2 linked regions of the Homo sapiens genome follow. The protein of the gene in region 1 purifies or fractionates together with the protein of each later gene. This does not show direct contact. Each region holds a gene or a part of one and is shown on either strand. Other genes may lie near its edges. The genes, in order: CASP2 and PDS5B.

What was found.
Region 2: the proteins of CASP2 (region 1) and PDS5B purify together in Homo sapiens (affinity purification with mass spectrometry, with the first as the bait; one large-scale study listed by BioGRID). This does not show direct contact.

Annotation. Positions count from the first base shown.
Region 1 is NC_000007.14:143,291,351-143,295,170, forward strand, and holds part of CASP2 (caspase-2 isoform 1 preproprotein), read left to right. Parts: intron 1-189; coding exon 190-340; intron 341-949; coding exon 950-1,117; intron 1,118-1,266; coding exon 1,267-1,348; intron 1,349-2,879; coding exon 2,880-2,974; intron 2,975-3,246; coding exon 3,247-3,423; intron 3,424-3,820. UniProt on the Homo sapiens protein: Is a regulator of the cascade of caspases responsible for apoptosis execution. Might function by either activating some proteins required for cell death or inactivating proteins necessary for cell survival.
Region 2 is NC_000013.11:32,771,263-32,775,082, forward strand, and holds part of PDS5B (sister chromatid cohesion protein PDS5 homolog B), read left to right. Parts: intron 1-1,926; coding exon 1,927-2,062; intron 2,063-3,754; coding exon 3,755-3,790; 3' UTR 3,791-3,820. UniProt on the Homo sapiens protein: Regulator of sister chromatid cohesion in mitosis which may stabilize cohesin complex association with chromatin. May couple sister chromatid cohesion during mitosis to DNA replication.

The sequences.
Region 1 (3,820 bases):
ACATTATTTTCTTATGATCAATGTGTTCCTGCTTAGTACATCTTTGCTTTAACCAGATTTAAGAAATATGCATAATCTTGGTTATTGTAAGTCTTATTCTTTTTGTTCTTCCTATTCATGCCTCTTCCACTCCACTCTTCTGTGTCAAATTGTGACTTGACAGCCTTTCCTTCTACCGTTTATCTGTAGGATATTGGGAGTGTGTGGCATGCATCCTCATCATCAGGAAACTCTAAAAAAGAACCGAGTGGTGCTAGCCAAACAGCTGTTGTTGAGCGAATTGTTAGAACATCTTCTGGAGAAGGACATCATCACCTTGGAAATGAGGGAGCTCATCCAGGTATCTGGAGGCAAAAGAGAGAAGATAAATTGATCATGGGGTGGGAATAGAGCATGACAAAATATGGAAAGGGTGTCGTATCTTTCTTCCTTTTTTTTTTTTTTTTTTTTGAGACAGAGTCTCTGTCTCCCAGGCTGGAGTACAATGGCGCGATCTTGGCTCACTGCAGCCTCTGCCTCCCAGGTTCAAGTGATTCTCCTGCCTCAGCCTCCCAAGTAGCTGGGACTACAGGCAGGTGCCACCATGCCTGGCTAATTTTTTGGATTTTTAGTAGAGACAGGGTTTCACTGTGTTAGCCAGGAGGGTGTCGATCTCCTGACCTCATGATCCACCTGCCTCGGCCTCCCAAAGTGCTGGGATTACAGGTGTGAGCCACCACACCCAGCTGGATGTTGTACCTTTCTAAAGAAATGGAAATGCCCTTCTACCGTAGAGCATTTGAGAGAAATGATATATAACTCAAGAATAACAGAAAGGACTTCACCCATACATACACTTTTCCTGTAAAAAGAATTCTTGGATGAGGACACTACTAGGAAGCTCATGTGGAGAAATAGAATTATAGCTAGAGAAGTAAATATGATTTCATGTTTTATTCTTGTGTCTTAGGCCAAAGTGGGCAGTTTCAGCCAGAATGTGGAACTCCTCAACTTGCTGCCTAAGAGGGGTCCCCAAGCTTTTGATGCCTTCTGTGAAGCACTGAGGGAGACCAAGCAAGGCCACCTGGAGGATATGTTGCTCACCACCCTTTCTGGGCTTCAGCATGTACTCCCACCGGTATGAAGCTTTAGTAATATGGGGTGTTGGGAAGGGTTAGTTTGACTGGAAAGGAATTTGTAAGTCAGAGTGAGGGAGACTAGATTTTGTTGTATTTGGACCGGACCACTTCCCTAAGGTCTGTCATCATGAGTTTTGATTTCTTACAGTTGAGCTGTGACTACGACTTGAGTCTCCCTTTTCCGGTGTGTGAGTCCTGTCCCCTTTACAAGAAGCTCCGCCTGTCGACAGGTGAGAATTGATGGACTAAAAGGGGTCCCAGGCCAGGTGCCACGGCTTACGCCTATAATCCCAGCACTTTGCGGGGCCAAGGCGGGTGGATCACCTGAGGTCAGGAGTTCGAGACCAGCCTGGCCAACATGGTGAAACCCCGTCTCTACTAAAAATATAAAAACTAGCTGGGCATGGTGGTGGGTGCCTGTAATCCCAGCTACTCGGGAAGCTGGGGCAGGAGAATTGCTAGAACCCAGGAGACGGAGGTTGCAGTGAGCCAACACGGTGCCACCGCACTCCAGCCTTGCCAACAGAGTGAGACTCAGTCTCAAAAAATAAAATAAAATAAAATAAAAAGGAGGGGGGTGTCCCAGATTGACTTCCCCTTTCTTGTCTGGTATCTGGCTTTGTCCTAACATGAGCCCTTTTTTTTGTTTTTTTTTTTTTTTGTTGTGTTTTTTTTCAGAAATAGGGTCTTGTTCTGTCACCCAGGCTGGAATGCAGTGACACCACCATAGCTCACTGCAGCGTTGAACTCCTGGGTTGAAGGGCTCCTCCTGCCTCAGCCTCCCAAGTACCTGGGATTACAGGTGCATGCCACCACACCTAGCTCATTTTTAAATTTTTTGTAGAGAAGGAGTCTCACTTTGTTACCCAGGCTGGTGTCAAACTTCTGGCCTCAAATGATCCTTCCGCCTTGGCCTCCCAAAGTGCTGGGATTATAGGCGTAAGCCACCATGCCCAGCTGAGACATAGTTTATATTGGGAACAGTTGTCAGTAAATTTGTTAAGGGCTAGTAGGACAGTTTATGCAGGAGTTTGTGGTTTTTTGTTTTTTTTTTTTCTTGTGATGGAGTCTTGCTCTGTCGTCCAGGCTGTAGTGCAATGGTGCAGTCTCGGCTCACTGCAAACTCTGCCTCCTGGGTTCAAGTGATTCTCCTGCCTCAGCCTCCTGAGTAGCTAGGATTACAGGTGCGTGCCACCATACCCAGCTAATTTTTTGTGTTTTTAGTAAGAGATGGGGTTTCACCATCTCCTGACCTCGTGATCTGCCTGCCTCGGCCTCCCAAAGTGTTGGGATTACAGGCATGAGTCACTGCGCCCGGCCCAGGCAAGGTGTTATTAATAGTTGGTCCATTTCCCTTCCACCCCAGATAACAGTTTTTGTGATAATTGGGCCTTTGAGTAGCATGTATGGGCAGGAAGTTCATGCTCAATTGGCCTCTAAAAAGCTGAATAAGAAAAGACTACATTTGGGGCCACCAGCCTGCTGATGGAGCATCCTAGTGATTGGAACGAGGCTTTTATCAGCTAGCCCATTCGGTCATTCAGCCAGTTGAGCATATGCTTCATGCAGGCTATGTGCAGAGAATCCTTTAGTGAGCTAAAACTAAGAGTCTCTGCCCTCATGAAGCTTACAGGTTTGGGTAGTGAGTGAGACCAATATTTATCACAACCCAGTTGCAAGAGATGTCTGAAGTTACAATGACATATTAAGATTGATGGTTAAGTTATATACTAGTTTTTTGGTTTTCTGTCTATACCACAGATACTGTGGAACACTCCCTAGACAATAAAGATGGTCCTGTCTGCCTTCAGGTGAAGCCTTGCACTCCTGAATTTTATCAAACACACTTCCAGCTGGTGAGTTTTTGCATAATGACAAGAGGAAGAGAGTTGGGAAATTAGACACCCTTCCTGGGAACCTGAACTTAGTTTGCATGTACATTTCCTTTCTGCCTTATTAGTCAGAAAGTTGTTACTGGTTAAATGCCTTCTGTGAGCATTTGTCTATTTTTACCTGCTGGAGGTTAAGAAGAAAAATACGATGTCTTTGTTTTCTTGAAATGTCTAATCTAGCCGAGGAATCATCTGTTATCAAGACGCTCATGGTCTAACTGGCCTCTCCTCCACAGGCATATAGGTTGCAGTCTCGGCCTCGTGGCCTAGCACTGGTGTTGAGCAATGTGCACTTCACTGGAGAGAAAGAACTGGAATTTCGCTCTGGAGGGGATGTGGACCACAGTACTCTAGTCACCCTCTTCAAGCTTTTGGGCTATGACGTCCATGTTCTATGTGACCAGACTGCACAGGTACCTGAGGTGGGAAAAATTGACATGTAAATTAGAGGACTGAACAACACTTTGGGACCAGAGACATCGTTTGTTCCTGTGCCTGCTGGGATATGTCTTAAAAGTTGGTTTATTCTACTTACATTTTTACTCACTCTGTTCTGCCTCTCACCTTGCATTCTAGTAAGAAAGAATTAGGGCCGGCCAGCCATTTTAGTGTTGACATCTCAGGTTGTGGTTTCATAAAGTAATAATAGTCCACAGTTGGTGTCTCACTTTTTTTTTTTTTTTTAAAGACAGAGTTTAGCTCTGTCACCCAGGCTGGAGTGCAATGGCACGATCTCGGCTCACTGCAACCTCTGCCTACCAGGTTCAAGCGATTCTCCTGCCTCAGCTTCCTGAGTAGCTGGAACTGCAG
Region 2 (3,820 bases), on another chromosome or scaffold:
TTTGTTTGTTTTCTAACCCAGTTCATTTATCTACATCAACATGTATATAGTTTTAGATGTTCACACAAACACATTTATAAGAGAGGTACAGTAAGAATCTGTACCTCAAATTTTAGTGTCACCAGAGTATCACTGCTGTAATTTGCAGATCTGACAGTGTTTTTTCTCCTTAGTTATGTGAGTGGAAATAGAGTAGCATGTCTTCTATTAGTCAGAAATTTAACACTTTTTCTGAGAGTAATCCCACCCATACATAATTACATCATGGCTCGACTTTTCAGAGTTGCCAATGTACTGTCATTAAATACTCAATTATCTTAGAGATTTTCCTATTCCTGTGTATTCCACAGGAAGAGGAAAAGTTGCCTGGGTGTCTAGCCAGTACTTCATGCCATCTTCCATGTAATTTTTCTATCAGGTTAAAAGTAAAGGTAAGTACATTTTTGTGGCAGCTTTATAAATGTGTTTGGATTCAACCAAATCACTATTTCTAAACAAAGGATTCTTAAGGAATCCTTTATTTAATAAAATACACATGAATGATGTAACAAGGAAATAACAAACCTCATAATTTTAGTTTGTTTATATTTGGACATCATAAAATTCAGGGTTTAAATGATTATTGTGCTCTCCTAAAATTACACAAGTCCTATGAATGTTCTAAACCAAACAAGTATTTCTTAAAAAAAAAAAAAAATTGATATGGAAGAAGATTCTGTAGTCTGTCTTGGAAGCCTATCTTCCTTTCACTGGGAAGCTCTTTCTAGAGCTAGTATACTAACATATGTTAGGATTTGTTTCTTTTTCTTGTTCTGACCTCAGTGAAATTGAAAAAGATTGTCATTATGTTTCATGTTATTTCTATAGTTTCATTAATCTCGAAAAACCAAACCAAGTAAAAAAATTGTTTGGTTCGAGCGTGAGTTAAAAAAATACATATTTTGGATTGCTTATAGAAGTGATGTTATGTTTCTAATTTTAAAAAATAAAGATTTATCAAGAGGGATCCATTTGATTAGATGGTTCTATTACATATTTTTTGATGCCTCCTGTGTTTCAGAGAGTACTAGGTGCTAGGGACACAAAACAGACGTGGTACTTGTTTTCATGGGCTCGTGGTTCTTGTTTTCCACCATCTAATGGAGTGAGGAAGTTTTTTCTTTAAAAGTAACAATGAGTTGATATCTTGAGAATAGTAGGGGCTAGACAGGCAGAGAACAGGTGGCATGAACACTATATTTGAAGTTTCTGAAGTGAAAAATAACTTGGCAAAATCAGAAAGCTAAAGGAAGGCAAGGGTTTGTTGGATTGTAGTTGTGGGGAGTTGGGGAGCAGAAAGAGATGAGAGTGGACAGGTAGGCAAGGACCATCTACTGTTCCTTGTATACTTTGTTAAGGAGGTTTACAAAATTATTCTCAGCTCAGTAGGGAGCAGTAACATCATCTGTTCTTGTACTTTTAAAAGATAACTTTGTAAAGAGAAGAGGCAAGAGATGGGAATGGTTTGAATTAGGTGGTAGCAATGGAGATGTGGAGAGAAGTGAATGGATTTGAGATCTCCATAAGAATCTATAAGGCCAGACAAAGACAGGTACACTATATTCAAAGCAGAATTCCTTTCTGCTTTGAGCAGCTCAGTAGACATAGATGCCTTTTACTGTGTTAGGAAAGATGAAAGGAAGAGCAGACTTTAGGTTATGGTATGTTCTCAGTCACATTTTTTTGTTGTTACTTGGTAGATAATATGTAACATTCTATGATTAAATGCTGGTTTAGGATTCAGAATATTAAAGAAATGTTCTTGTCTCATAAAGTAACTGAGGGTAAAGATGATATGACGATGAAATACGTGAAACATTTCTTCTAACGAGGTAATCTACTGAAAGATTGGAACGTTCATTGTGTTTTACATGTGTTTTACTCTAGCCGTGTAGGACGCTCCAAACAAGCAGCTACTAAGGAAAATGATTCAAGTGAAGAAGTAGATGTGTTTCAGGGTAGCTCTCCTGTCGATGATATTCCACAGGAAGAAACAGAGGAGGAGGAAGTTTCTACAGTAAATGTATGTGTTCAAAGTTTCTGTGAGTGGTGTGGGATATAAAAAGAGTTAGTAAATGTTTGGTTAGATCATTTAGTACTTGTTTAGTATTTATATGTTTTACTTCATTAGTTCATAGCATCATTTTATCTACCAGGTTGGATAATGGAGAACATCTTTTATGGAAACCCGAAACTAAGCAAATAGGTGTAGCTTAATGAGAATGTAAATGTCAAGTCTGAACTGAATGTACAGCATTCTAATATTGACACTTTAAGCATGTAAGTTGTACCTTGATTTTAGGGCACTGATACCCATTAAGTATACTGTTGTTTATATTTTACAACTCTCCGTTTGGTATTTCTATTTGGGTTTCATAATAGAAATTAGAAGTTAGTTACACAGAATAAAATCAGCCTTTGGAATTGAAGTTTGAGCTGAATGAGAATTCATAAAATTGGTAATACATACTTATTTTGCAAAAGTAGGTATGTGTTACTTCCTGACTTTTTTGTTTTTGAGACAGAGTCTCACTCTGTCACCCAGGCTGGAGTATAGTGGCGCACGATCTGGGCTCAGTGCAACCTCTGCCTCCCAGATTCAAGCAATTCTCCTGCCTCAGCTTCCCAAGTAGCTGAGATTACAGGCCAATGCCACTGTGCCCGACTAGTTTTTGTATTTTTAGTGCAGACAGGGTTTTACCATGTTGGTCAGGCTGGTCTCGAACTCTTGACCTCAAGTGATCTGCCTGCTTTGGCCTCCAAAGTGGTGGGATTACAGGCATCAGCCACTGCACCCGGCCCTTCTTGACTTTTAAAGTAATAAATAAATAACTTTACCAGTTAATACAACTCAGATATTTCTCTTAGGAAAAAACATAATACATTTAAGTAGAAGCTCTTCTCCTATCTTTGTTTGAGAAACCCAAGCTCTATAATCAAGTCTCAGAATTGGTCTCTGCTGTTCTGTCCTGTTTAATGGAATCAGAACTCCTATCTGTACCAGGATTCATATTTGTGAATAAGCGAGTTAAGTACACAGGAAAATATGCATAATTGTGACCTCAAATTAGTTTGGCTTGTTTCTTAAAGGGTTTTGGGGAGGACATCAAAGTAAGTCTGAAGAGTCAGTAACGATTGATGTCTTCATCAGAGAAAAACTACATGTAAATTAAAACCCTCTTTTATATTCCTATTGTTAATATTGACATTTTTTGAACTAAAGTTTTATGCTTTCATTAGTGCTTGTCAGCAAATGATAATATGTTTGAATTTTAGGTTATTTTACTGTATTGATAATTGTTAAGATCCAAACTCAGTAACTGCTTTCCCAGAAAGATAATGTAAGTTCATAAATGTGAAATGTTTTCATTTACCACAGGAAACATAAGTAGAAAGATGATTAATCTGTTTGAGTTATTTTTCTTGCTGTAGACATTGACTTCTGTTCATTTCTCTTTAAAATTATTAGATAGAAAAGTAAAATAATTTTTTTCTTTCACTGTTCTGGGGAAGTCTGTGAGCCTGTAAGGGATCAAATGTTATAGAGGTCTAAATATGTGATGCCAGGGCAGAAAGTAAGGATAAAAAGTTTCAGGGAAAGGAAAGCAAAGAAAATCAGGAACAAATGAGAATAAAGATTAGTTAAAAATGATTACTGCATATCTTATGCACATATACCCATTTTAATTAAGCATCTGGTGACTTTCCTTTTAAGGTACGGCGGCGAAGTGCTAAAAGGGAACGGCGATGAACAAATGTAATTAATAACTTTCTCTGTGAA